Linked DNA regions of Homo sapiens. The protein of the gene in region 2 interacts with the protein of the main gene of each other region in a biochemical or structural test. Each region holds a gene or a part of one and is shown on either strand. Other genes may lie near its edges. The genes, in order: SMC3 and ESCO2.

The links.
Region 1: of the proteins of ESCO2 (region 2) and SMC3, one has a biochemical effect on the other in vitro, tested with the Homo sapiens proteins (one study listed by BioGRID).

What each region holds. Positions count from the first base shown.
Region 1 is NC_000010.11:110,564,896-110,581,788, reverse strand, and holds the start of SMC3 (structural maintenance of chromosomes protein 3), read right to left. Parts: upstream 14,095-16,893; 5' UTR 13,973-14,094; coding exon 13,958-13,972; intron 12,852-13,957; coding exon 12,776-12,851; intron 8,083-12,775; coding exon 8,044-8,082; intron 6,454-8,043; coding exon 6,386-6,453; intron 5,430-6,385; exon of another isoform or gene 5,328-5,429; intron 4,369-5,327; coding exon 4,297-4,368; intron 3,955-4,296; coding exon 3,875-3,954; intron 3,162-3,874; coding exon 3,083-3,161; intron 886-3,082; coding exon 768-885; intron 1-767. UniProt on the Homo sapiens protein: Central component of cohesin, a complex required for chromosome cohesion during the cell cycle. The cohesin complex may form a large proteinaceous ring within which sister chromatids can be trapped.
Region 2 is NC_000008.11:27,793,614-27,810,506, forward strand, and holds the end of ESCO2 (N-acetyltransferase ESCO2), read left to right. Parts: intron 1-5,927; coding exon 5,928-6,103; intron 6,104-9,692; coding exon 9,693-9,825; 3' UTR 9,826-11,703; downstream 11,704-16,893. Other genes in the region: PBK (lymphokine-activated killer T-cell-originated protein kinase), read right to left, coding at 16,692-16,888. UniProt on the Homo sapiens protein: Acetyltransferase required for the establishment of sister chromatid cohesion. Couples the processes of cohesion and DNA replication to ensure that only sister chromatids become paired together.

The DNA.
Region 1 (16,893 bases), on a different chromosome or scaffold from region 2:
TTAAAATACTAAAATAGCAATTAACCCATTTATGCCAGAGGTTGCAAATTTTTTTCTGTGAAAAATCAGACCTTGGCAATGACCTTGAGCAGTAGAATATAAGTAACATCCACAAGCTTAGGATTCCAATAATGGAATGCTAGGCATAAATGGGTTAAGATCCTTTATTATGAAAAGCACCAGAGAACAAATTTACACATGGTGACACTGGTTCTTTTATAACATGTAGTAAGGGCCTCAGTTTAAGCTTCCTTTTAAAAAGTCAGTGTGCCGGCCAGGCGCAGTGGCTCATGAGTAATCCCAGCACTTTGAGAGGCCAAGGCAGGTGGATCATCTGAAGTCAGGAGTTCGAGATCAGCCTGGACAACATGGTGAAACCCTGTCTCTACTAAAAATACAAAAATTAACTGAGTATGGTGGTGGGCACCTGTAATCCCAGCTACTCAGGGAGGCTGAGGCAGGAGAATCACTTGAACCCGGGAGGCAGAGGTTGCAATAAGCAGAGATCGCGCCACTGCACTCCAGCCTGGGTGACAGAGCAAGACTCCATCTCAAAAAAAAAAAAAAAAAAAGTCAGTGTGCGTTTCCACAATATTTTTAAAAGCTACTAACATCATTGGTGTTATGGATTCTCAATTTTTATTAATAACAGCATTATCTAATGCTGTCATATACTAAACACCTACTATATTCCCATCATGGAGCCACTCTGTCACAAAAACAGTAATTTGCAACAAAAAAATAAGGCAGAATCACATTTATTTTACCTGTTTCTTTCATTAAGGAGATGCTTTCTTCCTTTCGTTCGTCATACACTCTAGTACCAGCTACTTCTCTTAATAGCTTTAATCTCTGAGAATCTGGTGCTGTTGCCATCTGGTTGATCTAAAATTTTTAGAAAAATAATCATTACATAGCTGTAGCCTCCGTTTAAGAAGAAGAACTCCACGTTGAAAGGTTTTTAATACACATGAAGGTTGGGTATCCCTTATGCAAAATGGTTAGAAACCAGAAGTGTTACAGATTTTAGATTTTTTCAAGTTTTGGAATATTTGCATTTATACTTACCAGATGAGCAACCCAAATCCAAAAATTTGAAATCCAAAATGTTCCAACAAGCATTTCCTTTGAATGTCATGTCCACACTCGAAAGGTTTCAGATTGTAGAGCATTCTGTATTTCAGACTTTTGAATTTGGGACATGCCAAGTTTTAAACAGATTATGATTTGGCTAATGTCATTTGTATAGTACGCATGCCTACATATCTATGTCTCCTTTACTTAAATGAAATTTACCAAATAAAATCCAAATACAACTGTTACGGTCATAACTCTCCTTTATGAATAGGGCTAACAAGTGAAGGAGTATCTCACACCACCATCTTTTTCTTAGTCAATATGATAAGGTATAAAAGATGAGCTCCATTCTCAAAAAACAAAGTATTTTTATAAGGGAAAACCATCACTGACTACACTTTTTTTTAAAGCTACAATAATATATTAAAAGTCAATTCTTCCTCAGTTTCCATGGGGATTGGTTCTAGGACCCCCTGCAGGTACCAAAATCCAAGGATGCTCAAGTCCCTTATATAAAATGGCATAGTATTTGCATATAACCTATGCACATCCTTCCATATACTTTAATATCTAGATTAATTATAATAATACAATGTAAATGCTATGTAAATAGTTTTACTGTATTTTTAAATTTGTATTATTTCTTATTGTACTGTTTTAAAATTTTATTTATTTTAAATATTTTTGATCCATGGTTGGCTGAACTTGCAGATGTGGAACCTACAGATACAGAAGGCTAATGATATGACAAAAATGGTATGCTTTAAATATAGAGAGAATGGTACAACTTAAGTGCCATGCAACTTAATATATAACAAGTATCCCTAAATGTCAAAAATGATATCACTGCATTAAAAAATTGAAATTATCTCTACGAAAATAGGTCTATCAAAAGTATCTACATCAAAGAATCATCCTTCAGATCCTCATTATTGAACGCTCCAATTATACATATTGGTTCATGCAATTTCCTCACTTAAAAATTATTTTTCAAATGGCTACAACATATGTGCCACTGCTGGGCACTGGAAAAGAGCAAACAAAGCAGAAAAGGTCCCACCCTCATGGAGCTTACATTCTAATGGAAAAAGACAGAAAATAAGTACTATCCTAACAGTGTAAGTGTTATGAAGAAAAATAAAACAGATTAAGGAAATAAAGCACATAGGGTTGAGGGGACGGCAATGCTTTCAGATGAGGCAATCAAGGATGGCATACGGGCAGAAACTGAAATGAAGTAAAAGGGCCTAGATTGACAGCAGACGGATCTCAGAAAAGTGCTCTTTCAAATCAGCCTCCATTTAAAAAAATTTATCTCCCACAAATAGTTAAATCGGAAAAAAACGTGTTCTTCCAGTAACACATTTTCTAAAACTGAAACTCCATATTCTTCCTAATCACTTCTTCTAAATGCTAACTTTCCAATACATATCTAGAAAAAAAGGCCTACAGTATAAAATAAGTGAATATTCTTTGAGAATTTTCCCTAGTCCAAAAAAAAAGTGAAAGTATATGAGAAGAGAGCAGAACAATCAGCTAAAAAAGTTTGTAGTTTGGCTGCTGAAAAAATGTAAAAACATAATCCCTATTAGGGAAAATAACATGTGGCAAAATGGCAGATTTCTGGTAATGTTAGCTTTTCAGTATTTTAATTGTGATAAATAATTAGGTAACACAAAATATTAATTTTAGAAAGTTTTTCAAATGTGATTTTTATAGAATTCCTACAATATTCTTAATTATTGCAACATTCATAAGCCAATAATGTCTTCCCATACTTTCACCTCAGTAAGTAATACCAGTCACTAGGAAAACAAGATCCACTTAATATGCTGAAATACTTCCATCTCAACATGCAATGGACCTATTTGGTACTTTATGGCCATGTAAAAGAATATGGCCATTTTTGCTTCAGCTTAACCACTCAAATCAATAAACCAAATTCATCACTCAAGAATTACTCAGAAAACAAATTCTACTTAAAAAGGACATACAATTGTTTTACCTTTCCTTGTTTAACAATATAATAAGGATTGCTTCGAGAAAAACCAGCGCTTTCAAGGAGGTTCATCACATCATTTTTCCTGTTGACAAACAATGAAATTACTTTCCGATAAATAATTTTAAAGCACCATTAAGCAATGAGTAGAGTAGCCCCTTGGTTGATAGCATTAGGGAGGAAAGATCAGTAATTAAACCATCTGTATCATCCTCAGAACTTTCTGATTCTTATGTTTATCCTCTATATGTTGACTTGTTGAAGATGAAGCAAATATTCCTCATATATGAAGCAGGTAAAAGAATACTTTTTACTCTTTTGTAAGGAAATCATAAAATTGCGGGCTGGGCGCAGTGGCTCATGCCTCTAATCCCAGCACTTTGGGAGGCCAAGGCAGGCAGATCACAAGGTCAAGAGTTCGAGACCAGCCTGCCAACATGGTGAAACCCCGTCTCTACTAAGAATACAAAAAGTAGCCGGGTGTGGTGGTGACTGCCTGCAATCCCAGCTACTCAGAAGGCTGAGGCAGCAGAATAGCTTGAACCCGGGAGGTGGAGGTTGCAGTGAGCCGAGACTGCGCCACTGCACTCCAGCCTGGGCGACAGAGCAAGACTCCGTATTGAGAAAAAGAAAAATGCTGGCTGGGCGTGGTGGCTCATGTCTGTAATCCTAGCACTTTAGGAAGCCGAGGTGGATCATTTGAGGCCAAGAGTTCGAGACCAACCTGGCCAACACAGCAATACCCCATCTCTATTTAAGTACATATTCAGTTTTTTTAAAAAAAAGAAAAATGCTTACGTGACCATCTTCTTGTCTAAGAAATACTGATCCTTTTTGGCACCAATAACTCTTCGAAGTGAAACTTCCTCTTTATCGATCTAAGAAAAAATGTAAAAGCCCACAGTTAATTTAATAGTAAAGGAGAAAACTTTTTAAATAAGGTCATTTTAAAGTCCTTGCCCATAAGTATTTATTTTAAAATTTCAATTATCTCACTAAAAATAATACTACAAATACTCAATACTCTTAACCAAGACACTTTTCACAACAGTTTGTACATTCCCATTTGTTAACAGAGTATTCATTGTCATTTTAAGATAAAATCAGTATATAAACTGTAATTATAACAAATTATAAAAGCTTAAAAAGTTTCAAAGTATGAAGAAAATCAGCTAAACCAATTAAATTCTCAACATTACTTTAAAAAAAAAGTTACTTACTGGTAACCGGTTGTCTGAATTATCAAAAATAATCTCCACAAAAGCAGAAATAACACGAGGACCAGTACCTTCCTAAAAATGAAAGAAGTGAGAAATTTGCCATTTAAGTTGTATATTCATATCCTTTAAAGGATTCTTAAAGTCTAGGGCATAATAACAAGTCTGATTCAATGGAGAAAAATTTCTGCTAGATTCATATATACACACACACACTAATCTAACGTCTCTGCTCTTTTGGCAAGAGGGATACATACTTTGGGGATATCCCCAGAGTTATAGTATATATCCCTCTTGCCAAAACAGCAGAGACGTTAGATTAGGACAACAAAACTTCTCAACCAAATAGCTTTTGATTCTAAATAAAAAATAAGAGCTATGCAAGACATGTCAAAGTTAGATATCCTTAAATATGATTCTACAGACCACTTTATTAGACTGCAAGACTGGGGACATTTAACTCTACCTATTTGCTAATATCTAATACACCATGAGGCTTTTCTCTTACAGTCTCATTTTAATGCTGCAAAGAAATCCTAATAAATCATGGGATAATTACCAAAAGTCTGTTTTTTAAGAAAAATTGAGACATTCTACAGTTTTAAATCTATTATAGAAATATACACATTTAACATGTGTCACATTTAAACCAATCTATGACACAAAAACTATGGTACCAAGTCCAGATACCTTCCAGATTATAGAAACTATGTAGTAAATACAATGAAGAACTGTACCAAAGAGGTTATTAATTATTTTAATGCCAATCTGAAAAACCTAAAAAGAATTTTTCTAAAGGAAATCAATTCTGATTACTGGGCTACAAATTCAAACTAAACAAGGGGAAAAGACAGACAAGAGCTAAACAAAACAATTTCCTATGTGTGAGAAACACTGTTAAGACATGTTGAGGAATTTCATTTTCTAGTCTTTAATAAACAATATTCAAATCAGAAGGATTAATCGTTTTATTGTAGTCTTTCATGATTTTCTATCCTAAAATTACTTTAGTCCATTACTCATATTTTTTTCCACATCACATTGGTAATGTGCCAATGTCCTAACAAGGTTTGAGGGAGGCATGACTCACATGAACACGAAAACCCAATCATCGTGCTTATGCATTACAAAAGGACCCACTTAATAAAATATCCTAACTCACATTACTGTAAATATACAGGTGGTCCCCAACTTACGATGGTTCAACAAATGGCTGAATGACAACGTGATAGCAGTCTACATTCAGTAGAAACCATAATTTGAGTATCCATAAAATCACTGTTTTTTACTTTCAGCATAGTATTCAATAAATTATATGACAGATTCAACACTTTATTATAAAACAGACTTTTGTGTTAGATCATTTTGCTCAACTGTAGGCTAATGTCCATTTTTGACTTATGGTATTTTCAGTTTATGATAGGTTTATTAGGACATAACCCCGCTGTAAGTTGCAGAACATCTCTACTGTTTTTCATACTGGAAAATGATGTTTACTATCTAAGTACAAATATGGCTAAAACAACAAACAACTTGTATGTTGTTTAGTTTGCAATGGTTGTTTCTCTATGTTCCCAATTAATTTTTGGTTCTGCATCTTAAAGTTCCTAATCTGCAACCTCAAACTCTTCTTTCTCCTCAGCAAACCTGCTTCTTAAGCCTTTGCAGATCACATCCTTAAAGAAATGTACATGGAGGACATACCCACCTATAGGCAAATCCTATAATTTTCTCCTAACCATCACATAAAAATTAGGCCTTTATCTGGCATTAACATGTTAGGCTAAATTTCACAGCAGAATAAAACACTTATGATATATATCATGTCTCCTTTAAGACATTTATATGGAGGACATATCCATCTATAGGCAAATCCTATAATTTTCTCCTAAACCACTGTATAAAAATTGGGCTTTTATCTGGCATTAATATGTTAGGCTAAATTTCACAGCAGAGTAACACACTTATGAGAAAGATTGTGTCTTGTTCACAAAGAATCTGAAACTTGAACAAATGCTTTTTTAACCAGCATGGAAAATTTATTTTTAAAATATATGTAATATCAATAATGTCTTAAAGCAGTCTCACTCACATGCAATAAAGCCAACCGCTGTTCTGGACGAAGATGACTAAACTCATCACTGAGAACAAACTGAATTGCTGGAAATACAAAAACAACTATTAGTATACCCTAAAAAAGTGTTTATAACTTATTTATAACTTCCCACACCTCAATAGAACATAGTGTGTCTGGTAATAGACAATGCAAATAAATTATCTGTTTCATATGGACAAAAGGAAATGCAGAAAATGTGCCTGCACATCAGACTAATCAGGTAGGAAATGATATAAGAAAAATACTGAGAAGTTTTCATTGAAACATTTAAGGTAAGGAAATAAAGAGAAACCACCGAAATACATGAAAACAGACAAGCAAAACTAAGGTATACCTCTGGCTCAAAGTGTTCACTGACTGGATTAGGTTAACACTGTATTTGCTTTTTTCCCCACTAGACATAAATGATATGAGTTAAAATCCTTTTTAACAAAATAGGATGTATTTTGAGAATATGCTTAAGTGGATACTTTACCAAAAGAAATAAAACTAAGGAAATACAGGGAAATGTTTGAGATGCCCAACTTATACTACACTTCTTATACTATACCGAGCTCTGTAAGAAGGGGCCGTTCCTACTTCGGTATAGAGTACCTAACTGGACCACCCTGCCTAGGAAGTGGAACTCTTTACTCAGCTGTTCTTGTCCCAGTCCACCCAAGAGACCTCTGGCACTGTGTGTGTGTGGAGGTGGTGGGGGTGCCCACATCAGCAAGTACGTGCATAAGCATTAATGTGTGTGCTGTGGACACAGGTCGAGGTGAGGAGACTTCACACTGCCCTGGAGATTCTGAAATACTTCCACTTCAGTCCATTCTCTCATCATTGCCAAATTACAACCACAATAGGATATACAGGCTAGAGAGTGCCTTTCAGATTCGTGTGCACAGAAGAGATAGAACCTTTGTTCTTACTAAGCCAGTCCACTAAATGCCCCTTTCCCTCAAGCATTACCCAACTAAAAAGTTCAAATTTTTCAACCTACTCCTTAACTGTCTAATTTTGTTAAAATGTTTTTCTCCTCAAAGGATTTGTTAACAGACGCATTGCTATTTACACTTAAATGCAATTTAGAGAGAATTTTTGAAGCTCTATTTACTATCTTCAAAGTGACAACAGTCTGTTCAGTTTCAAGTTTTTTATACCTCTTCATCCTTTACAAAGATGATTGGTTTAGAAAACGTTTTCAAAAAGGTGAAATAAGAAAGATGAACAATTTTCCAAAACAATACTATCAACTATTCTACTGCATTTACATACGTTTAAAATATGCATTTATAACATTTATATATTACATTCAAGTTTAAAAAGCATTTTCATACATACTATTGCATTCCATTCTTACAAACCATCTAAGGTAGACAGGGCAAACATCCAAACATCTCCATTTTTAAAGTGAAAAGAAAAATTTGAGAGGCTACGTGTTTTGCCCACTCTCACACAGCTAATCAGCCACTGGGTATAAAGCAGAATTCAGATCTGTATACTCTAAACCCTCTACACTAAGCTGCAACCCCATATAAAGTATTTCTTGGGTTTCATGAATACATAACCTCAGAAAATTAATGATTTTAATAATCTACCCTAAGATACCCAGGTCTTAATATATTTACAATTCAAAAAGCAACACCTACCATAAAAAAAGTTACTTTTTCCAGATCCATTTCTGCCCACTGGAAAATTTCAAAAAGTACAAGTTATTTTACATAAAAACCAATAAAATTAAAACTGTTTACCTTTTTAAAAATACTCAATATTTTTAAAATCCAATTTTCTAATACATCTTAACATCTGAAATTAAACAGTGAACAAAAGAAACCAATAAAACAACTATAATCACCAAATAAATTCAATTTTTGTACAGACTTCTAATAGTTTTTTCTTTAAAGATATTTCACAGTTGATCCGTTTGCTCTTACCCAATAGTTTAAAATGAATAGGAATAGCTAAATATACTACCTGGCTCTTATATCATATTACAATGGATATATAATTCTATTTTAACTATATATGTTTAACAATTTAAAGATTCATATATTGCTAACGTTCTAAAATAATCATTTTAAATCCTTAAAGTGTTCTCATGTTTAAAATCAACCCTATATTATCATGTGTAGTCTCACAGAACCACAAAAATATAAATAATTTTAAGGTACTTTTTGACTAACAAAATTCAAATATAAGCAATTCAATACGTAAAAGGGTATCAAATCCTTTTAAGTGTGTTTAGTGAAATTTTCAGTGTTAAGACTCATAAATAACTATGTCAGTCTTCTCACTCTTGAGCCAGAAATATCCTGAGCAAATTAACCACAAAGTTACCACCTTTAATGCAAAGTAAATCTCAAAAAGATCATTCATGTCATGCCAGAAAGGATGTACTTTTTAAAAAAACGCATATGACAGACACAGGAGCCAGCTTGAAGGGGCCTTTCAGTAGCTAAAACTAGGGGTAATCTGAGCATCAAAATGGCCAAATAAATTATAAATTATTGGTGGGGGGAATAATCCATGCATCCATACCAATAATAAAAAGATAAATAAGTAGGTAAGGAAGGAGGAGAATTACCAAATGCCAAGTTGTAAATGTGAAAGGAGTGCTGGAAATGAAAAATCATTTTGTGACCGTCAGAATAAAGGCAAGGGTCATCAACAGATGGTAAATGCAGGCACAAAGTTTGAAAAGGAGCACAAGATTTACATGGTCCAAAAGCATCTGCCTATATTACTTATTAGCTGCAAGGGAAAAAATAATACCTACACAGTGGAAACATTAGACCTTGACTGGGTGATCAAAAGTAATATCATCAATAAGAGTCAGACAGACCTCATGTGCCTCCAGATGTGATATCCTGAGAGGGACACAACATCACTTATGTCTTAATTCTCAAAAATAACAATGTTATAAAAGACAAAGGAAGGCTGTGGAAATGATCCAGATTAAAGGAGACTAAAGAAGCATGACAACTATGCAATACCTGCTCCTAAATTAGATCCTGTACTGGAGGGGGAAAAATGCTATCAAGAACACTTCTGGGTCAGTCAACATAACTGGAAAATGGACAGATTACTATGTATTAAATTTACTTAAGTTGTAAATTGTACTGTGATTATGAAAGAGAACATCCCTCCTCTTAGAAAGTACACATTAAAGTCAGAGGTAAAGGACCATGGTGTAAATAACTTTAAGGAAAAAGGTGTGTAAAAAGTGGAAATGATACAGCAAGTGGGGAAAATGTTAACAACAGGTGAATCTAGGTAAAGGGTTTATGAGTAGTCTCTGAACAGTTCTTATTGGGGAAATTTTTCTGTAAATTTGAAACTATTTCTAAATAAAAGTTTAAGATGACAATTTATCATTAAATGAATAAATATTTCAAACCACAATCCATCTATAAATAACTGAAATTTTAAGAATTTCCTTTTAAGAATTACTGCTAGAGTGGAACACTATATAGCAATTTTAAAGGATGCTGAATATTTAATAAAGATATTTCAAGATTTATCCTGAAGGAGAATAACAGATTACCAGTAAGTTATATGATGAACCCATTTTTTATTTAAAAATGAACCCATTTTTATTTAAAAATGAACCCATTTTTATTTAAATATATATTAAAAAGATGTATACAAAGACTAAAAACGTACTGAGGTAAACACAGTTTATATGTGGCCCCAGATTCACCTTTCTCAACCCAGGCCTTGGCTGCCAATCAATGGAAAAGCTCAGTCTCCTAATACCTCTGGTAGATTCAAGCTACCTTGGGAGTACATTCAGGTACTCCTGAATTGTGAACATGGAAAGGAGGCTATAACTCCCTGACTACTTCCGGGTGTTAGTTCCCAGAGCACCACAATCCAAAAGCTTGGAGGCATCAATGCCAGATGTAGAAAACTTTGACCAATGAAAGACAGGTGCCTGCAAACAAATCCTTGTCAGAATCCAAATCCATTCCTCTATCATCTGACCTTTCTAAGGTATGGTGGGTCCACAAAGTCTGTGAGTTATTTAACATGACTGCAAACCACCTGTCTCTTCTTTAGAAATCTATGACCAGCTTTTCTCTTCATTCTTGCCCTCAAACTGCACCTCCCATCAAAGCCTTAGCAGCTAATCCTGTCTGTGCTGTTTTCTAGGAAACCAGGACTAATCACAAGTATAGACTGTTATTATTAAGAATGGTTATCTCTGAAGAATCATGGTGTGCAGTAAAAAACAAAGAATGGTTATCTCTGAGTAAAAGGATTATAGTTTATCTTAATTTTCTTCCTTTTAGCTTTTCCATAATGTTCTATAACATGTATTTCTTTTGTTAAAGGTTAGGGGGAAAAAAATCCCTAAAAACGTATATGTTTGATGCATATACCCAACATCAGTACAAGAGATATTTTTTAATAGTCAACATCATTCATCAATCAAAGTGGTATGCTTTCACCAGATATTTTTAAGGCAAATCTCAGTACCTAACTACTTTTGGTCTTTCTTACATTATGTCTTACAACGTGTCTGGTTTTAAAATATGTTTAATCAGTACTGTTATCTTGGGTTCATTTGTTTTAGTTAAACAAAACCATTTTCCTTTGTAACAGTGACTATTAACAAATCTAATGCTGCAATCACAGAGGTAACACAACTAACTGATAACAGCTAAAACAATGGTATTTGATGGACCTTATAGACAAAATGTAATCATTCTAGCTAGTAAGTTACAGATCATTTATAAAATCACACAAATGAAATATTAAGGTACTTATTTTAAGGTGCAAGTTAAAGAAAACAGAAATCTAATAATTCTTATTTTTCTACATTTCTAAAGATTTTCTGATTGATGAAAAAAATCAGAAAGTACTTATATGTAAGCAAAACCCCAGTACAATTAAGCCACCCTATGGCATGTCAATTCAATTAAATGACTTCAGTAGACAGAGCACAAGCAGGGAAAAAAAAAGTATGCCTTCTTTATTCCCAACTACAAGGCTGCTATTGATAAATCGAGGGCAAAAAAACCTGCCTTCAATTTTATCATTTTATACAAAATGAAGTATGATTCTCTAAAGGTCTTCTGGAAACATTAGTAATGTGAATCTCACCCACGCACCACAGACTGAATTGAACTGACACCCTGAAACAACTGACACCTTAATCCCGAATGTGATAGTATTTGGACATGGGGACCCCTGGAAGATGATTATGGTTAAATGAGGACATGAGGATGGGGCCATGTGAGCACACAGCAAGACAGCAGCTGTCCATAAGCCAGGAAGAGAGCCTCACGAGAACCTAACCATGCAGGTATCCTGATCATGGATGTCTGACCTCCAGACTATGAGAAAAAAAATATCTTGTTTAAGCCACCAGTCTATGGTATTTTGTTATGGCTGCCTTAGCAAACTAATACACCACTTAGTTTGGACTCTGTACAGCAAAACTGTGTCAACAGCAGTCTGTGTTTCTGGTGTCCAGAAGCACTCCTTTCATCTATCCTGTAAAATACTCAGCAGAGTGTCAGAAAACATTTTTGTTAGCTGTATCAGCAAAATGCACACTACAATCTGAGCAATCTATAATGACTACATATTGTTAATGGCAATCACCATTAGCTCTTTATCTTCACACTTACATAAGGTTTCTCATTTAATCTTCTCAACAGCCCTATGAGACAGGTATCATCTCCACTTTACAAATGAGAAAACTGAAGCTTCTCAGAAAGTGAAAAAGAACGTGTGCCACAACTGGGATTTTTTTTTTCGTTGTTGTTATACTAGGATACATGTGCACAACATGCAGGTTTGTTACATAGGTATACATGTGCCATGTTGGTTTGCTGCACCCATCAACTCGACATTTACATTAGGTATTTCTCCTAATGCTATCCCTCCCCCAGGCCCCCACCCCCCTATAACTGGGATTTGAACCCCATTCTGTTATGCTCCAAAGTTTATGCTCTTCCAATCTAGCTACATGGTCTGTCCTTAGAGACACTGACTGCCGGGGTGGGGGGGGAATCCTGGCATCTACTTTGTGAATAAAAATTGTCTGTCTCTGAAATAAGGCAACAGTCAGCATTTTCACTAGGATATATAACAAGAACAGAAGAGCGGAAATGCTTTAAAACACTCTTACACACACATACAAGGCTACCTAGATAAAAAATGGATAACTTATGAGTGTCTTATCCAAACATTTTAAGTTTATAAAAATAAGCAATTCATCAGTGCAATAAGACAGAAAAGTTATTTCACGCAGAAAAATATAACTTAATATTCAAAGACAATTCCTGTCTCCTTAAGCCAATATAGAAATGGACAGAATTTACATTATCTGTATAGACTATAAATATGACCGAGTAAACCAAGAACACTTACCAATCACATTATGTTTTGAACTGAAGGGATCTACAATTGTTTGATCTCTGTAACTTCGAAAACCCTGGATAATCACCTAGTAAATAAAAAACATTTTTGAGAACCCACCCCACAAAAAAAATTAACATTTTTCTCTTGCATTTCTTTCTTGTTTTTCATTTAATGCAATATAGAAAACTCGAAATTTCATATAAGAAAAATTCATTTTGGAAAGTGGTGATTAAAAATCTGCTAAAAAAAAAAAAAGGTACTTTTATCGGTAATCTTTGCCAAGGCAATGCTGCTGGGTTTTATTTTTTTTTAGGAGTTATGCTGTCAACCTGTTAAGGACCTTTCAAAATCAAAAACACTGTGTGAGCTTAACTGAACCCTAAACGCTGCAGTACAATAGCAAGTCTATAAAAGCAGGCCGACGGGCCCCAGCTCTCCTGACTCCAAGACCACCGAGTGCTGCTTTCAGTCACTCACGCCGGCCAGCCTGAAAGAACCCACGTTCCAAAGAAGGAGTGCTCAGAGCCCGACAGACCCAACAGAAAACCGTCTCCAAGGCCGTGTGCCTGGGCTCATCTTTGTGGTGGAGTCCCGCGCGGGAAGACCATTTTGACAGAAGTAAACAACCGAGGGAGGCGGCGCTCCGTATCCTGCAAGCAGGAGGGTCCCGCTCACTTCGCGGGTTAACTGGGGAGAAGAACGGCTCCCCGCAGTGACAGGTGACGACACCCCAGCCAATGCCCCCAGGGCCGCCCCCGGGCCGGGGAAGCCACCTTTCCACACATCCCAGGCACATGGGCCGTGTGAGGCCACCCCTGCAGGACCACACAGCCCTTCCCGCCCGCGGCCGCCCCGGCGGGGTGCCCCCCGCCAGCTCTGGGGCCACCCAGGAAGGCCCAGTCCCTCCCAGCGGCCCGCCCGCCGGCCCTTCCACACCTCTCGGAGATCCTGCCTCTCCCAGACAAGCGCCAGCAGGGAGGCCGGGGCTGCAAAGGAGTGCCCCAATTCTCCGCGACCCCGCAGCCGGGGCACTAGCGGGACCCGGGTCTCCCTCCTCCCCCACAGTCCCCGCCCAGCCCTGGTCCAGCCTGTGGAGACAGGGGAGAGGCTGCGGGTGGCGCCGCAACACTCCCGCCTCAAGGAGCGGCCCTTACCGGCCCATGACGGGGTGGAGGGACGCGAAGGCCTTACCTGCTTTATGTACATGATTCCGGGCCCCTGGCCTGGAAGGAGACCTGCCCCGGAGCAGCAACCGCACGGCCGCAGGGTCAGGTGAGGCGCCTACGCGACCCCTCCCCCAAAGCGCCGCTCGCTCCCCTCAGCCAAACAAAATGGCGGCGCTCGTGGGGGCGGAGTCCGCGCCTCGGACGGAACCACCTTGCAGCCTTCACAGGGCGTAGGAGGAGTCAAGTTCAGGTCTGCTCTTTCTTTTAGGCAAAACCAGTCCTCCACAGCGTTTTTTGGTGGATTTCTTTTGAATCTAGAATTCTGTAGCTAACGCTTTCCTGAGACTTAGTCAAAAGCTTCACTCGGAAAATCTATGACCGTAGGGTTGGTCCGTACCACCTCCGAGCGCGGGGCCAATGGTCGCGTCCACAAAGGGGGAAAGGTTCCGCGCCAAAGCCAAGAGGGAGACTCCGAGGGCCAGTAGCGCCGCGGGCTGTCGGCCACGTGATTCCGCGCTGTTTAAAAAAGCGGACCTCGCGCGCACTGTGCTAGCCTTGGAACACATGGAATGCTGGTGATTCTTGGAATTCTGTGTGCGGAGTCACTGCTGCCCCTTTGTTATCGCTCTCCATAGGAACGTTTACAATCTTAGCACGCCCCAAGCTGGTTACGAATTGCCCACTCGGAGGACAACCCCGAAGGGATTTGTCAATGCTCGAAAATTTGTTTTAATAATGTGATGATTAATTCCGTCGGGAACTGTTTCTGTTCTACCATCTGCTATAAATCTAGGCAGATCTGTACAATTGCAACAAAGATTTAGGTAAGGCTGAAAGCTTTTAATCCACTTTAAAAACAAAAGAAAACAGCCTGAAAGATACTAGGTGCTAGTGGCAACCCTAGGTCTGTCTGATCCTTGTCAGTCTTGGGAGAAAAACATCATTTGTTTAGAAAATGAATCTCTGGGCTGCTCTGAAATTACTTGCTGGGAAGAGAACAAAATAACTACCCAAATCATCCCCAGCCCCACCCCCGCCCGCTGCTGGAGACAATTCTGGCCCTAATTATTTCTAGATTGAACTATTTTTAGTAGCCTCCTAACTGCCTCTGCTAACCAGGGTATCTCCCTAGGAGTCCTTTATCTGGAGCCCGGATCAAATCCTATCCAGCCCTTGGTTTAAAAAAATAAATAGGCCTGGTCGAGTGGCTCAAGCGTGTAATCCCAGCACTTTGGGAGGCTGAGGGGGGAGGATCACCTGAGGTCACGAGTTCAAGACCAGCCTGGCCAGCATGGCGAAACCCCCGTCTCTACTCGAAATACAAAAATTAGCTGGGCGTCGTGGCGGGTGCCTGTAATCCCAGTTAGTCGGGAGGCTGGGGCAGGAGAATTGCTTGAATCCAGGAGGCAGAGGTTGCAGTGAGCCAAGATCGCGCCACTGCACTCCAGCCTGGGCAACAGAGCGAGACTGTCTCAAAATAAATTAAATAAATATGTAAGCATTTTCTTTTCTTTATTTCTAACTTTTTTTTTTTTTTTTGACAGGATCTTGCTCTGTCACCCAGGGTGGAGCTGGAGCATAGTGGCTCGGTCATGGTTCACTGCAGCCTCAAACTCCTGGGTTCAAGCCATCCTCCCACCTCAGCCTACAGGCTGTGGCCACCAAGCCCAGCTTTTTTTTGTTTTTGTAGAGACCAGGTCTCCTTATGTTGCCCAGGCTGGTCTCTAACTTCTGGCCTCAAGCGATCCTCCCACCTCTGCCTCCCTAAATGCTGGGATTACAGGAATGAGCCACTGCACTCAATCTAAACATTTTACTTCTAGATTTTAGTTGTATTATTTAAAGCTTAGGACAGGTATGGTGGTTCACGCCTGTAATCCCAGCACTTTGGGAGGCCCAGGTGGGTGGATCACTTGAGGTCAGGAGTTTCAGAACAGTCTGGCCAACGTGGCAGATAGGATTATCTTATACATCCTGTTTGTAATTCTAAATATGATGGAGTTTTATCATCTTCATTTTATAGACTAGGAAGTGGAGGCTCAGCATGGCAAAACTCCGTCTCTACTAAAAATACAAAAATTAGCTGGGCGTGGTGCAGACGCCTGTAATCTCAGCTACTCAGGAAGCTGAGGCAGGAGAATCACTTGAACCCAGGAGGCAGAGGTTGCAGTGAGCCGAGACTGACACTGCACTCCAGCCTGGGTGATGGAGCGAGACTCTGTCTCAAAAAAAAAAATTCTAAGCCTCCACTTCCTAGTCTATAAAATGAAGATGATAAAACTCCATCATATTTAGAATTACAAACAGGATGTATAAGATAATCCTATCTACCTAAAATTGTTTATACATATGTAGGCAAAATATGAAAAGATGGTGACTAAAACATTTGAATGGCTTTCACAGTGATGGGAGTTTTACTTTCTTCCTTAGGCTTTTCCATATTAAATGAAGCTTATACAATTAGCTTATATAATTTATATAGGCAGAAAAAAAGATCAGCGAAAAACCTAAAATAATCAAAAGGTGATTTTGAGAATGTAATGCTTTTATTTATATTTATGTATTTATTGTCTATCTCTGCACGAATATAAATCCAAGAGAGAAGGGACTTCATTTTGTTCCTGCTGTTACTTAGTAACTAATTCACAGAAAGTACTCAGTATATATTTATGAGTGAAAAATGCACAGAAGCAAAGTACTTACCACCGTGCAGGGCTTACATATGCCAGCTACTGGTGTTTAAAAGCTCCCTATGTCCCCATTCCACCCACCTTTCATCCCCCTTAGGAGCATCATTCTCTTCTGGTAAGTACGTAGGAGTCGAACATATTGATCTCCTTTAGCCAGGATAAATAGTTATTCAAACCTATGAACTATCTGGAAGCAAAGGGACATTCCTGAAAGAAATTGCCACCATAAAGCAGAATGCCAGCCGCACAGTGCCTACTAGCTCATAGCTAA
Region 2 (16,893 bases):
GTAGCTGGGACTACAGCCGCGTGCCACCATGCCTGGCTAATTTTTGTATTTTTAGTAGAGACGGGGTTTCACTATGTTGTCCAGGCTGATCTTGAACTCCTGACCTCCTGATCCACCTGCCTCAGCCTCCCAAATTGCTGGGATTACAGGCATGAGCCACCGCACCCGGCCTTTAGCAATTTTCAAGTATACATTAGCTGCAGTCATGCCATACAATAGATCTGCAGAACTTACTCATGCGAACTTAAACTTTGTACCCTTTACCAACGTTTCCCCATTTCTCCCATCTCTCACTCCCCCAGCCTCTGGCAACCACCATTCTACTCTGCTTCTATGAAGTCAACTTCTTTAGATTCAGTATGTAAGTGAGATGTTGCACTATTTTTCTTTTTTGCTTGACTGATTTCACTTAGCATGATGTCCTCCAGGTTCATTCATGTTGTTGCAAATGTCAGGATTTCCTTTTTAAAGGCTGAATAGTATTCCACCTGTATATGTACCACATTTTCTTTATTCATTCATCCATTGATGGACACTTAACGTTGATTACATATCTTGGCTATGAATAATGCTGCCATGAACATGAGAGTACAGATTTCTCTTCAACATACTGATTTCAGTTCCTTTGGATATACACTCAGAAGTGGGATTGCTGCATATGGTAGTTGCATTTTTATAGTAATCATTCTAACAGGCGTGAGGTGATCTTGTTTTAATTTGCATTTCCTTGATGAATTAGTAATGTTGAATGAGCATTTTTTCATATGTCTGTTCCTGATTTGTATGTCTTCTTTTGAAAAATATCTATTCTGGTTCTTTGCCCATTTTTTAATCAGAGTATTTGTTTTCTTGGTATTGGGTTATTTATATATTTTGGATATTATCCCCTATTGTATACACAAATTTTTTTTCCAATCAGTAGGTTGGTTAGTTTGTGTTTATCCACTCTGTACTATGCAGAAACTTTTCAGTTTGATGTTACATTTATTTCTTCTTTTATTGCCCACATTTTTGGGGTCATAGCCAAAAAATTATTGCCCAGACCGATGTCAAGCTTTTTTCTCATTTTTTTCCTTATAGTTTTACAGTTTCAGGTCCCTCATTTTAAGTCTTTCATCCATTTTGAGTTGATTTTTGTATGTGGTTTGAGATAAGTCTCCAATGTTATTCTTCTGTTTGTGGATATTCATTTTTCCCGACACCATTTATTGAAGAGACTGTGTCCTTGCCCCATTGTTTGTTCTTGGCATGTTTGTCAGACACCAGTTGACTCTAAATGCCTGGATTTATTTTATCTGTTTTGTTCCATTGGCTGCTGTGTTTTTTAATGCCAGTAGGAGTGCAGTGCCCCTCAGCTTTACTCTTTGGTCTAGATTGCTTTGGCCGTTTGGAATCTCTTATGGTTCCACAAGATTTTAGGACTGTTTTTTGTATTTTTGTGGAAATGCCATTAGAATTTTGATAGGGATTGCATTGCATTTGTAGATTGCTTTGGGTAGTATGGACATTTTAACGATATTAATTCTTTCAAGCCATGAACACTGGATATCCTTCCATTTATGTAGATATTCTTCATCTTCTTTCATCAGTGTTTTCTGGTCTTCAGTGTATGGATTTTCACCTCCTTGGTTAAATGTATTCATAAGTGGGGTTTTTTATGCTATTATAAGTGGATTGTCTTCTTGACTTCTTTTTAAGATAGATCATAGTTTGTTTTTCCTGTATAGAAACACTACTGACTTTTGTATGTTGATTTTGTATCCTGCACCTTTTCTGCATTTGTTTATTCTAATAGTTTTTTTGGTGGAGGCTTTAGGGTTTTCTGTACATAAGTTCATGTCATTTGCAAACAGATGATTTAACTTCTTCCTTTAAATTTGAATGCCTTTCTTTTTTCTTCCTAATTGCTCTGGCGAGGAATTCCAGAACTATGTAGAATAGAAATGATGAGAGTTAGCATCCTTGTCTTGTTCCTGATTAAGAGGAAAAGATTTCCACTTTTCATTGCTAAGTATGATGTTAGTTGTGGGCTTGTGATATATGGCCTTTAGTATATTGAGGTACATTCCTTCTGTACCTAATTTGTTGAGAGTTCTTATCATGAAAGGATGTTGGATGCCTTTTCTGTATTGAGATGATCATATAGTTTTGTTCTTCATTCTGTTAATATGGTGTAACACATTGATGTGCATGTATTGAGCCATCCTTGCATCCAGGGATAAAGTCCACTGGATCATGGTGTACTATGCTTTTAATGTGCTAGTTTGCATCTGTTTATCAGGGATATTGGCTGGTAACTTCTCTTGTAGTGTCCTTTTCTGGCTTTGGTATCAGATTAATCTGGCCTTGCAAAATGACTTTGGAGGTATTCTTCAGTTTTTTGGAAGAGTTTGAGGATTAGTATTAGTTCTTTAAATATCTGGTAGAATTTAGCAGTGATGTCATTACAGATGGGCTTTCCTATGATGCAAGTTTTTTTTTTTTTCTTAAACTGATTGAATCTCCTTTTTATTGGTTAGTTTAGATTTTCTGTTTCTTCATGATTTGGTATAGGTAGGTTGTATGCTTCTAGGAATTTATTTCTTATAGGTTACCTAATTTGTTGATATATGATTATTCATAGTCTCTTACGATCCTTTGTACTTCTGTGATAATCAGTTGTAATGTCTCCTCTTTCATTTGTGATTTTGTTTAGTTGAGTCTTCTTTTTTCTTAGTCTAGCTAAAGGTTTGTCAATTATCTTTCAAAAAACCAACTCTTCATTTTGCGAATCTTTTCTATTTTTTGAGTCCCTGTTTAATTTATCTCCACTGATCTTTATTTTCTTCCTTCTACTAACTTTGGGCTTTATTCTTCTTTTTCTAATTATTTGAGGTGTAACGTTAGGCTACTTGAGATCTTTCTTCTTTTTTTATGTAGAACTGCTTTTGCTGCATTCCATAGGTTTTGGTGTGTTGTGTTTCCATTTTCATTTGTCTCAAGAAATTTGTCAATTTCCCTTTTAATTTCTTTGATCCATTGGTTGTTCAGGAGCATGTGGTTTAATTTTCACATATTTGTCAGTTTTCTACTTTTCCTCCCGTCATTGATCTCTAATTTTATACTGCTATGAATGTTCTGTGTGCACTTGAAAAGAGTGTGCATTCATTCCGCTGCTATTGGATGGAATACTATATGTGTTTCTGTTAGGTCCATTAGGTCTGAAGTGTAAGTTCAGTGTTTACTGGCTGAACTCAGTGGCTCACACCTGTAATCCCAACACTTTGGGAGGCTGAGGCAGGAGGATAGCTTGAGGCTAAGAGTTCAAGAACAGCCTGGGCAACATAGTGAGACCCTGTCTTTACAAAAATTAGCCAGGCATGGTAGTGCATGCCTATAGTCACAGGTACCTAGGAGGCTGAGGCAGGAAGATTACTTGAGCCCAGGAGTTCGAAGCTGCAGTGTGCTATGATCGCACCAGTGCACTCCGCTCAGGGCAATAGTGAGACCCTATCTCTTAAGAAAGAAAAAAAAAGTTCATTTCCTTATTGATTTTCTGTCTGGACGATGTATCCATTGTTGAAAGTAGGATCTTGAAGTCCCCTACAATTTTGTATTCCTATCTATTTCTCCTTTCAGAATCCTAAATATTTATATATTTAGGTGCTCCAATGTTAGATGCATATGTATTTACAACTGTTTTATCTTAATGAATTGACCCTTTTATTATATAATTACCTTCTTTGTCTCTTGATGGTTTTTGACTTAAAATCTATTTTGTATGATGTAAGTGTAGGTACTTCCTGTTCTCTTTCGGTTTCCATTTGCATGGAGTCGTTTTTCTGACCCTTCACTTTCAGTCTATGTGAGTCTTTTGTAGGCAATATTTAGTTGAGTCTTGTGTTTTTATCCATTTAGCCACTCTGTGTGTCTTGATTGGCAAACATATTCTATTTACACTTAAAGTAATTATTGATAAATAAGGATTTACTATTGCCATTTTGTTTTGTTTTCTGGTTGTTTTATATATATTCCCTTCTTCCTCTCTTGCTGTCTTCCTTGGGATTTGATGATTTTCTGTAGTGGTGTGCTTTGATTTCTTTATCTTTTATGTATCTACTATAGGTTTTCGCTTTATGGTCATGAGGCTTACATAAAATATCCTATAATATAACAGCCTATTTTAAGCTGATAACAATTTATATCACCTACAAAAGCTCTGCACTTTTTTTCCCTTCAACATTACTAATTTTACAGTTTACATCTTTTTATGTTGTGTATTTATTTAAGAGGCCTTTTCCTTCTTCGATCTCAAAGAAGTAGACTGTTATGTCCTGATAATAGGCAAGATGTAGCTAACTAACTGTTCTCTTCTACTCTCAGGTCAGAAACAATGTTGTGTTGTTCGTAATTAAAAACTAAATACACACCTGTCAGAAGGGTAACAGTAGGTAAAGAATTGAGACAATACCAAATGCTAGTGAGGATATGGGGAAACCAGATCTCTCACACCTTGTTAGTAGGAATGTAAAATATTACAGCCACTCTGGAAAAAGTTTTGAAGTTTCTTTAAAAACTAAACATAGGCCAGGCGCAGTGGCTCACACCTGTAATCCTAGCACTTTGGGAGGCCAAGGCAGGTGGATCACCTGAGGTCAGGTTCGAGATCAGCCTGACCAACATGCTGAAACCCCCCGCCTCTACTAAAAATACAAAAATTAGCTGGGCGTGGTGGTGCATGCCTGTAATCCCAGCTACTTGGGAGGTTGAGGCAGGAGAATCACTTGAACCCAGGAGGTGGAGGTTGCAGTGAGCGAGATCGTGCCACTGCAATCCAGCCTGGGCCACAGAGTGAGACTCCGTCTCTTTAAAAAAAAAAAAAACTAAACATGTATTTACTATATGATCCAGCCATTGTTCTCCTGGGCATTTAAGTAAAACAAAGGAAAACTGATGTACACACAAAAACCTGTACAAGAATGTTAATAGCAGCTTTATTAGTAATAGCCAAAACCTGGTAACAACCAAAGTGTCCTTAAATGCTTTAGGTGAATGATAAGCTATGATACAGCCATATGATGGAATATTACTTAGCTATAAAAAGTAACAAAGAATTGATACACTTAACAACTTGGATGAGTCTCAGGGGCATTATGCTGAGTGGGAAAAAGCCAATCTCAAAAGGTCATATGGTATATGATTTCATTTATATAATATATAACATTCTCATAGCCATGGGGAATAAATTGGTGGTTGTCAGGGACTGAGGATGGGAGAGGGGGTAGTGTGGATGTGACTATAATGAGGAAGAAGATCTTTGTGGTGACTCAATAGTTCTGCATTTTGATTGTGATGGTAGTTAAATGTATATACAGGTGTGATTAAGTGTCATGAAACTATACACACCATTATACCAATGGTAATTTCATGGTTTTGGTATTATACCAGTTATGGAAGATGTAATCATTGGGGAAAACTCAGGGAAGGATACATGCTCCTCTGTAGTGGTTTTTTTCAACTTCTTATGAATCTATTTCAAAATAAAAATGTTTAAGAAACGAAATGCCAACCAAATTTCATAGTTAATAGATATAAATCTTCTTTAGTGTTACTGGTTTCTTTAGGTGGTCATATATACATTTTAGGATGGAGAGAATGAGAGAGTTTTATATACTTTATTAAAAGGAAGAGTCTAATGTTTACAATTGTTTAAGAGGAAAGTCTCGTAATGCTATGGGACACACTAGAATTTGTGAATGTCTCAACACCACTAGTTTTTTTAAAGCATTGTGTGACTAAAGGGATAAGAATTTAAGAAATAGAAAATATTTTTTAACATACTTGGAGATATAAGTTAAATTTTTGATACTTATTTAAGGAATTTTTTTTTAAAGCAGTGTGAACTCATCTGTGGTGTTAGCTATAGATGCTTCTGTATATCATTGCAGGCATTTCGTGTCCTGTCTGAACCAATTGGTCCAGAATCCCCAAGCTCTACGGAATGTCCTAGGGCTTGGCAATGTTCAGATGTACCAGAACCTGCAGTCTGTGGGATAAGTAGAATCTGGGTTTTCAGACTGAAGAGAAGAAAGCGCATTGCAAGACGACTGGTTGATACCCTCAGGTAAGAAATAAAATGGATCTAGATCCAGAACCTTAGATTCATAGCTTTCCCAGAACCTCTCGGCTTCTGAGCTAAAGGGAAGGATATTGGTAAGATACTTCAGTATAAATACTATTAAAGTCAGGCTAAGGAAGGTATTGGTACTAGAAAAACCATACTAGATGTACTCAGTCTAGGGTGCAACATTCCAGGTCTGAAACATACTAGCCCACTGCTTTTCAAACTACCTGTGCTAAAGGACTAGTTTAATTTGTCACAGACCAACACTAATAAAATAAAAATGGATTGCTAGAAAAAAATAGAAAAAACAAAACTACAATCTCAAATTGTTTTAGACTTAACAGATGTGAAATTACGCTTCAATAAATATAATCTATACAAAGTAAAGGTTTGAAAAATTACAGAAGCTGTACATGGTCATTGATAGTGACTAGATAATGAAGACTTGGTATAACTCATAAGCATAACTAAAAAAGTGGATTTGTGAGACAATCCATAGAACGAGAGAAAATAGTTGCAAATCATTTGTCTAAGGGTCTAATACCCATAAAATAATTCTTATAACACAATAAAAAGACAACCTAATTTAAAAATGGACAAAGAATTTCAGTAGACATTTCTCCAAAGATAAATTGCAAATGGTTAATTCAACATAAAAAGATGCTCAACATCTTTATCAGGGAAATCACAAAACAAAACCATAGTGAGATCCCACTTTATACCCAGTAGGATGACTGTAATCAAACAGACAAGTGTTGGTGAGGATGTAGAGGAAACTGAAACCCTTGTACATTGCTGGTAGGAATGTAAACTGGTGCAGTTGGTGTGGAATACAATCTGATGGTTTCTCAAAGTTAAACTGTTATGTGACCTAGCAGTTTCACTCCTAGGTATATACTCAAGAAAACATGTCCACACAAAACCTTGCACATGAAGGTTCATAGCAGGATTATTTATAAAAGCCAAAAAAGTGTAAATAATCCAATCTGTGATTAATGGATAAATGTGATATATCGATACAATAATAACAATGGGATGTTATTCAGCCATAAAGGAAATTCTGGCACACACTGCAACATGGAGGAACCTTGAAAACATTATGCTAATTGAAATAAATCAGTTGCAGAAGATCGCACATTGTATGATTATATTTACATAAAATGTCCATAAGAGGCAGGCAAATCCAGAGGCAGAAAGTAGATGTGTAGTTTCCAGGGACTGAGGAAAGATGAATGGAGAGCAACTAATAATGAGTACGGGGTTTGGGATGATAAAAATGTTCTAGAATTAGATAGTGGTGGTGACTGGACAATATTTGTTAATATACACAAAACCACTCTGTTGTACACTTTTAAAGGGTGAGTCTTACAGTATATGAGTTATATCTCAACCAAAAAAATGAGTGTCCAGTTTTAATTCCCATGTACACACTTTGAACTGACACTATGTATTGATGTTTAAAGTTTCCAATGTCACAAACAAGCCTGTTTGCTAATTTACCTAATCTAGGTTATATGGATGAGTTTCACAACACTTGCTCTCTCAATTTCTACACATATTTCATCGTGTAGATAATAGGTTACAAACCAGTAAGCACACTTTAACCAAACCAAAGACCACACTTTGGAATAGTGTTATTCAAGCCTCTTGCATTCTATGCCACTTTTAAAAAATAAATGCCAACACCATTATGGGGACCGGATCTTGGGCCATAAATCCTAGTCAATCACACATACTTACAAAGGGTATCAGTAGGAAAAATTGGTATCTTAAAGATTTTTGTTTGATTAGTTATGAAATACTTTTCTATGTTTTATATTAGATATATAAATTTGGTATGAGGAATACCAGTATCTAACCTAGTTCTACCATATTATGTATTTAATTATAGTTAATATATTAGAAGCTTATATCTTCTAATTGAATCAAATTCTAAATTTTTATTCCGAAATAATTTCAAACTTACGAAAGAACAAGAGTAGTAGGAAGCCTTTGTCAAGATCTATTAAGTTCAACATTTACCTCATTTGCTTTACCATTCTATGTTTAGATAACCTTCCTGAATTATTTTGTTACATATATTATGCCCCTTTACCCCTTCATGCATTGGTGTGTTTTTCTTAAAAACAAGAATATTCTCTTATATAACCATGATACAGTTATCAAATTTGGGAAATTTAATATTGATGTAATGCTTTTATTTGACAGTCCATATTTCACTTTTGTCTGTTGTCTCAAATGTCCTTCATGGCATTTTTTTTTTTTTTTTTTTTTTTGCCCAGTATCACATTCAGCATTTAGTTTTCACGTCTCTTTAATCTTCATCTTCCCTAATCTGGAACAATTTCTCAGTCTTTTGACATGGAAAAATTTGAAGAGTGCAAGTCAGTTATTTTATAGAATATCCCTCAATTTTGATTAATTCTTTTTTTTTTTCTTTCACAAACAAGCTGTAGGAGATGTTGAATTCTTTTAACCATTTCCTTATTACTTTTAATCCTAAGGTAAGCAAGATCAAGGAGAGTTGTAGTCAAAATGCAGATTAGTTTTTCCCTTCTTAAAGCTCTCAGTGGATGTTTACATTGAAAAAATATATATAGGCTGGACGGTCGCTCTTGCCTGTAATCCCTGTACTTTGGGAGGCCGAGGCGGGTGGATTACCTAAGGTTGGAAGTTCAAGACAATCCTGGCCAACATGGAGAAACCCTGTCTCTACTAAAAAAAAATAAATAAATACCAAATTAGCCGGGTGTGGTGGTGCATGCCTGTAATCCCAGCTACTCGGGAGGCTGAGGCAGGAGAATCGCTTGAACCCGGGAGGCGGAGGTTTGTAGTGAGCAGAGATCGTGCCACTGCACTCCAGCCTGGGCGACAAAGTGAGACTCTGTCTCAAAAAAAAAAAAAAAAAAAAAAAATATATATATATATATATATATATATTATATATATATATATATAGTTACTGCTTAAGATTGATTTTTTTTGGTTCTAATTATCTTTGGCTTTTAATTAACAATATGATCTTTTTTTTATTTTTATTTTTTGATTGAGTTGGAGTCTCACTCTGTTACCCAGGCTGGAGTGCAGTGGCGAGATATCGGCTCACTGCAACCTCCGCCTCCTGGGTTTAAGTGATTCTCCTGCCTCAGCTTCCCAAGTAGCTGGGACTACAGGCATGCACCACCATGCCCGGCTAATTTTTGTATTTTTAGTAGAGACAGGGTTTCACCGTGTTAGGATAGTCTCGACCTCGTGATCCGTCCGCCTTGGCCTCCCAAAGTGCTGGGATTACAGGCGTGTGCCACTGCGCCTGGCCTAGCAATATGATCTTATATTAGTTGCTCTTTACCATGGATATCCTAGAGTTAGGTGGATGGTTCCCTTTGCCTCTCATCAGAATTTTTTCTGGACCTTAGTTTTCCCATCTGTGAAATGATATCATTAGACTTCTGTCTCTAAAATATAAGGCATTTTTTCACTTACTAAAAATAAGGTTGATTTAAGTCAAGAGTATTTACTTAAATTGTGCTCATGTTAATTAGAATGTTAAGTTGCTTCCATCATTAAATCATCTTTTCTTCTCTTTTAGGAATTGCTTCATGTTTGGCTGTTTTCTCAGCACTGATGAAATAGCATTTTCTGACCCAACACCAGATGGCAAGTTATTTGCAACCAAGTACTGCAACACCCCTAATTTCCTCGTATATAATTTTAATAGTTAAAGCTGATTTCAGTTATAAAGGAGTTACTATCTGGATAAGTTCAAAGAGCTCCTTATTATAAAATACAAACTATTTAATATCAAAATAAAAAATACCGAGACTCACACTCATACACACACACACACACACGCACACACACATATCACAGTTTTGTTCCTTATGAGTTGAAAAGTCAGGAATAAATTTGTTGAAAATTATCTGGGGATTCAAAGGAAAAATCTTTGGGTGATTCCCTGATTAGCACTCTGAATGTTTAATTATGAAACTTTGTAGCTATAACTGGAAAATTACCTGACTCTTTGTAAGAGTATTAAATACAAAGTGATTTTTCTCTAGAAATGTGACCTGGTCTTTTATAAAGCCCACTCTTAGACCAGGATTATCTAATGCCACATCAGAAGCAAACAGGCAAATTTAAACTTGGGCAAGTAATTTCTGTGCCCAATTTGTAAAGGGAATTCCTGAATTTTTTTTTTTTTTTAATAGAGGCATGGGTCTCACTGTGTTGCCCAGGCTGGTCTGAAACTTTTGGGCTCAAGCGATCCTCCCAAAACGCTGGGATTACAGTCATGAGCCACCGTGCCCAGCCTAATTCCTGACTTCTCTATACAGAGTCTTCACTTGATAGGCACTCGTCTGTAGTAACTCAGTTTGAATATCTTTAGAAAATGTTTAGAATTTATTTGTAACAAGATGGTAAGGAATAAGATTATCCCATATGCATTTCTGTAGAGCAGAATTTGATAGCTTAGTGTTCAATCTTTTTGAAAATAAATGTTTACCTGTCATCAGATTTAATTAAAATTATACTTAGTAATTGCACTATTACTTAGTTAATTTTTGTTGTATGGAAATATTGGTAGTACTACTTTGGGAACCTGTTACTGACAATTGATGTCATTAACAAAATGCCTAGTTGGATTAGATGTTTTCATTTTCTAATTTTTTGCTTGTTTAAAATGCACCTTACTTGTTCTGAGATACCTGGCAAAAGTCTTTACAAAATGTATGGTAATAGAACCAAGGTTAGTAAATATACATAGGCTGGTGGATGAGAGACCATGGAACTGTGTAAATACACTTAAATGTTCACACATTTTTCTAGTGTAATTCTTGGATACTTTAAAAAGCAAAACATTGTTCAAATTGTTTTGATTCTGAAAAATCATTCAACTGCTAACTGGCAATAAGACTCTAGGCAAGTCGTTTTCCAGATTGTAATTATATGTAGAAACTATTCATCTGCATTCATTTTATTTGCCTGTAAGTTAACATGTTTCCAAAATTTAAAAGCCTGGGTCCCCAAAAGAATGTGGAAGTATTAAAATGTATGTAATTATGCAAACATTTTAATGCTATTTTCTGCACTTATTTCTTTTAAATATTTTATTTAAAATTTTTAATTAACATTTTGTTTGCTTAATGCTTTTGTTATGAATCAATTAAAATTCTTTATTTTATACAACTAAATCTGATTTTAATTATTTTATTATGAAAATAGTATATGTTAAATAAAATTCAGATAATACAGAAATAGAGATTGCCAAAAGAAGAGGCTTCCCGGCCGGGCGCGGTGGCTCACGCCTGTAATCCCAGCACTTTGGGAGGCCGAGGCGGGTGGATCATGAGGTCAGGAGATCGAGACCATCCTGGCTAACAAGGTGAAACCCCGTCTCTACTAAAAATACAAAAAATTAGCCGGGCGCGGTGGCGGGCGCCTGTAGTCCCAGCTACTCGGGAGGCTGAGGCAGGAGAATGGCGTGAACCCGGGAGGCGAGCTTGCAGTGAGCCGAGATTGCGCCACTGCAGTCCGCAGTCCGGCCTGGGCGACAGAGCGAGACTCCGTCTCAAAAAAAAAAAAAAAAAAAAAAAAAAAAAAGAAGAGGCTTCCCTTAATCCTGCTTTGAGTTTAGTGCTTATTACTTTAGAATAACTAAATACATATGCAGTTATTTTGCATCTTGCCTCACTTCAGTATGTCTTAGATATGTTGTATTTCAAGAACTATTTCTATTTTAAATATTTAGCATGATTTGCTATTGATACTGTTGTCTTGGTTGGGTGTTTTTTGTTTGTTTGTTTGTTTTGTTTTTAAGTATAACACATACAAGAAGCAAGTGCACTGAGATGGTCTCAAAGCAATGATACCCTAATGGCAATGAGCACACCTACCACCCAGATCTTGGTTGGTTTCTTTCTTTTTTTCCCCCGCCCTGGGCTGAAGTGCAGTGGTACAAACACGGCTCACTGCAGCCTCGACCTCCCAGGTTCAAGTGATCTTCCCGCCTGAGCTCCCTAAGTAGCTGGGACTACAGGTGTGTGTCACCACGTCTGCTTAATTTTTGTATTCTTTTTTTAGTAGAGACAGAGTGTCACCATGGTGCCCAGCCAGTCCTTAAGCTCCTGAGGCCCTTGAGCTCCTGAGCTGAAGTGATCCTCCCACTTCAGCCTCCCAAAGTGCTGGATTATAGGTGTGAGCCACGGCACCCAGCCAGATCTTGCTTACTAATACCTTCTTCCACAAAAGGACCTGGGGCTCTTTGGAGAAATGGCTCATTCTAGGGATAGGGCAATGAATGTACAAGATGAGCCTAGATCACCTTGTACATCCCCCCTTATCTGCAATTTCGCTTCCCACAGTTTGTTACCAAAAATATTGCATGGAAATTTCTAGAAGTAAGGAATTCATAAGTTTTAAATTGCCCACCATTCAGAGTAGCCACAGTGGGGTGATAAGTGCTCAGTTAAGATGGAAAAGGCATTAAATTTGTGGGCAGAAGACATGCACAGAAACATATTCCTATTGAGGGCAATCAGGTTGAGTACTGTCCATGGTTTCAGGCATTCTACTGGGGGTCTTTGTCATAAATTGTGCCAATATATGTGTATGTCTATTTCTGCCTGTGTATTCTTACTAATTTTATATAGGTTCTATTTATGCTAATACCAGACTGTGTTAATTATAGTATCAATGTTTGCTATAGTATTAGTACATGGTCCCACTTTTTTTCTTCGGTCTATTATTGGACTTTGCATTTCCATATACATTTTAGAATCAATTTATTCCACAAAAAGCTACCAACAACAAAAAAGCCTGTTGGGATTTTATTGGAATTGTGTCAGATCTATAGATCAATTTGGGAGGACTGATTTTTAGACTTGCTCAAGTATTGGATACTTTCTTTTTTTTTTTTTTTTTAGACGGAGTTTTGCTCTTGTTGCCCAGGCTGGAGTGCATTGGCACTATCTTGGCTCACTGCAACCTCCACCTCCCGGGTTCAAGCTATTGTCTGCCTCAGCCTCCAGTAGCTGGGATTCCAGGTGCATGCCACCACGCCCAGCTAATTTTGTATTTTTAGTAGAGACGGGGTTTTACCATGTTGGCCAGGCTGGTCTTTAACTCTTGACCTCCAATAATCCACCCACTTCAGCCTCCCAAAGTCCTGGGATTATAGGCATGAGCCAGTATGCCCAGCTGTTACTTTTTTTTAAGCCATTGGGAAAAGTGTTTTAAGTTACATCTTGTTTGCTGATATATAAACTACAAGTTTTCTGTTTTGACTTTGTATTCACAATCTTTCTAAACTTAATTAATTCTAATTTATCTATTTCTATCTACATAATATCTGTGAATGAGTTTTCTTTTAGAATCTTACAGCTTTTTTGTTCTTACAATATTGCATTTCTAAGATTGCCAGTCTAGTACAGTGTTGAATAAAAGCAATGGTAGGGGGCATATTTGTTTCATTGCTGATAATAGGTAAAGTTTTCAACATTTTACTATTAAATATAAGGTTTATAGTTTCTTTGTAGATAAATTTCTAATATTAAGGAAGTTCCTCTGTCTATTCCTAGGTTTCTAGGAAGCTCTCAAACATCTTGAACAGATACTCAGATTTTATAAAAAGTCTTTCTTCTATCTTTGGAGATGATTTTGATTTTTCTTTATTGTTAATATGGCGGTTACATTGTTCTTTGAATGTTAAAGCAATCTAGCCTCCCTGAACTAAATAAACCAAACCCAATTTGGTCTTGATGTTTTTCTTTTTAATGTTATTGGCTTCAGTGAACTAGTTTTCTTTTGGACTTTTCATGTGTTCTTGAATAAGATTGGGTATCTGTAGGATCTGTAGTAAAGGTTTTTTCATTCATGACATGTCTTTTTTCTCCACAGATGAGTTTTGCCTAGGGGTTTATCAATTTTGTTAGTATTTTTGAAGATTGGCATTGTTAATCCTATCATAGGTTTGTTTTCTATTTCCTGTAAGTTTTAATTTTTTCCCCCCATTGGAAGGGAGGTACTATGGTCTGAATGTGTTCTACCAAAAATTGTATGTTGAAACCCTGTCCCCCAAGATGATGTAATACCATCGTAAGTAGTGTCTTTAGGAAGGTGAATGGGTCATGATGGTGGAAGGAACCCTTAGGGATTAATGCCCTTATAAAAATAGAGGGTCGGGGAGCTCCCTTGCTCTGTCCACCATGTAAAGACACAGCCAGAAGGTGCCTTCTATGAGGATGCCCTCACCAGATACCATCTTGATCTTGGACTTCCTAGTCTCTGGAACTATGAGAAATTTCTGTGGTTTGAGGCACCTCGTTTATGGTATTTTTGTTATAGTAGTCTAAGACGGGAGACTTGTTTTGTTTTTCCCAAATTCTTAGCTGATATATATAGCATTTTTTTATATATAGTTTTTATATGTAGCATTTGTCTAGTTTAAAATCCTTTCTAATTTTTATTCTAATCAACAGATTGTAGAAGATTAAATAGGTACCAGGAGACATGAAAGAATCATCTTCAACATTTCTCAAGTAGCTGCTGATTATCTCCTTTTATGGAGGCATAACAAGCTCCTGGAGGCTTCTACAGATTCTAAAGGGAAAGATTTCCTGGGAGGTGAGAAAGCCACTTGAGAGAAGGCTATTTTGATTTACTAATTAATTCAGTGTAAAGGTAGTCCTGGGCACGGTGGCTCACGCCTATAATCCCAGCAGTTTGAGAGGCCTAGACAGAGGTTGCTCAGGAGTTCCAGAGCAGCCTGAGCAACTTGGTAAAACCCTGTCTCTACAAAAAATAAAAAAAAAAAAATTAGCCAGGTGTGGTGGCACACACCTGTGGTCCCAGCTACTCGGAGTGGGAGGCAGAGGTGCAAGGATCACTTGTGCCTGGGAGGTTGAGACTGCAGTGAGCCATGATTGCCCCACTGTACTCCAGCCTGAGTGACAGAGCAAGACCCTGTCTCAAAAAAAAAAAAAAAAAAAGCCCTCAGCCAAGTCACATGTTGCTCTTTTGAGAATGAGGCAAATGTCCAAAAAGATAACATCTGAGACTTAGAGCAAGTTCTAGAACAAGAATAAAAAAAATTTTCTTCCAGTTGGTAGCAGATTGTCTGCAATCTTGTGTTGAGGATTTCTAGGACCTCACCAGACTCAAGGGGCAGTGCATGCTGGGATTATTTTGTAATGTCTACCATAGACAAGGGCTGTGAATTTGCTGGTCTTGTCCTTGGTATTAGTTTATTCCTATTAGATATCTCAACTGTAGGAAGTGGAAATAAATTTCTCAATGAAAAGCAATGGCTTATGTATTAAAGAGCCAATTCAAGAAAGATCCAGTTCCTGCTTTAAGTCTTAAAGCAGGAACTGCTATTCCTGCTAGGAAAAGAATGCCCTGGAGAAGCTGCTCTGTTGGCTTGGCAAAGAAGAGTGACACATGTCAGAGTGAGGATAAGAGACCCTATTGAGTATCAGGATGCAAAATTATACATACGTTTTTCTACAAATTAAGACAACTTCCAATTTACTTGTCACATTATTTTGATGGAATATATGCAAATTAATGTTGTGTCCTATTGCTTGGTACAATCTTATACCAAAAGGCCTTCAGTGATTTCTAGGCATTTTTAAAGTTCAGAGTGCAGTTGTTCCTAATGTTTCTGAGAACGCCCTGTGTCGGTAATTTTTAAAATTCTGTCTACACCCAAATGTAGGTATACCACCTACATTGGCAATTCAGTAATTTGGAAAATTCCCAGGGGACTGTGGCTTACAGAAACTACTGATCCAAAACACTTTATAGATTAGCAAAATAAGGCCAAGAGAGGGAAAGAAACCTCACATTTACTCAAGTTTAATGACAACACTCAAATCAATGAAGTATAAAATAATGCTGAGACACCTTCTGGTACCCAAAGTGTCCTTTATTCTTTATCATCCTATTTGAGTTTTATTGTTTTTACACAGCTGGGAAATGCTTAAGGTACAAATTAATAAATTTTAAACTCAGTATGGAAAATACATTTAATAAATTAAAGCAAAAACCAAAGATCTGAGGAGATCCAAGAGATCAAGACAATCTGTAACCAGAGTCTGAAGTATCCAAGGAGCTACTCTTTTTGAGGCATATTCTCCTCAGCTTCCAGTTATCATTTGATAAACACATCAGCAAAAGGTTCAGTGTTTTAAACAAATGTAGACTTTATTTTGTACTGTACAAAGTGCTAATGTCAGTAGATCCATTAAAATATAGAATATTTAAGAAAGATCATTAATAAAAGTAATGGTCATTCAATTTAATGTTACAGTTTACAGCGTTTTACTGCTAGTGTTTTAAGTCAGCATGAGCAGTATCAAAGTACTTATGTAGCTAGTTTCTAAAACTTTACAGAAAACCCAGTACAATTCCAAGTGCTTATAGCCAATATAAGCATATTTCATATTAGAAATAGTTATCCATATGTTAACAAGAAACTATGGTCCTCAAATATGCCAATTTTAGAGTCTAATAACTACTGATAGTAACTATGTAAATATTTTGGAATAAACAGTTATTTACGCAAGCCACACTTCAGCTGAGATGATCACTAGACATCTGTTTCCAGAGCTTCAACAATGTGTGCAGCAGAAGGACGATCTTTAGGGTCTTCATTAGTGCATACAGAGAAGAGTTCAATTACTTTCTGGTATGATTCATCCAGTTCTTCCATATTAATAGGTGGCCTAGTTCCCAACGCTGCATAGTATGCTTCATCATCAAAATCACTTTCATCAAAAGTTTTATCTTGA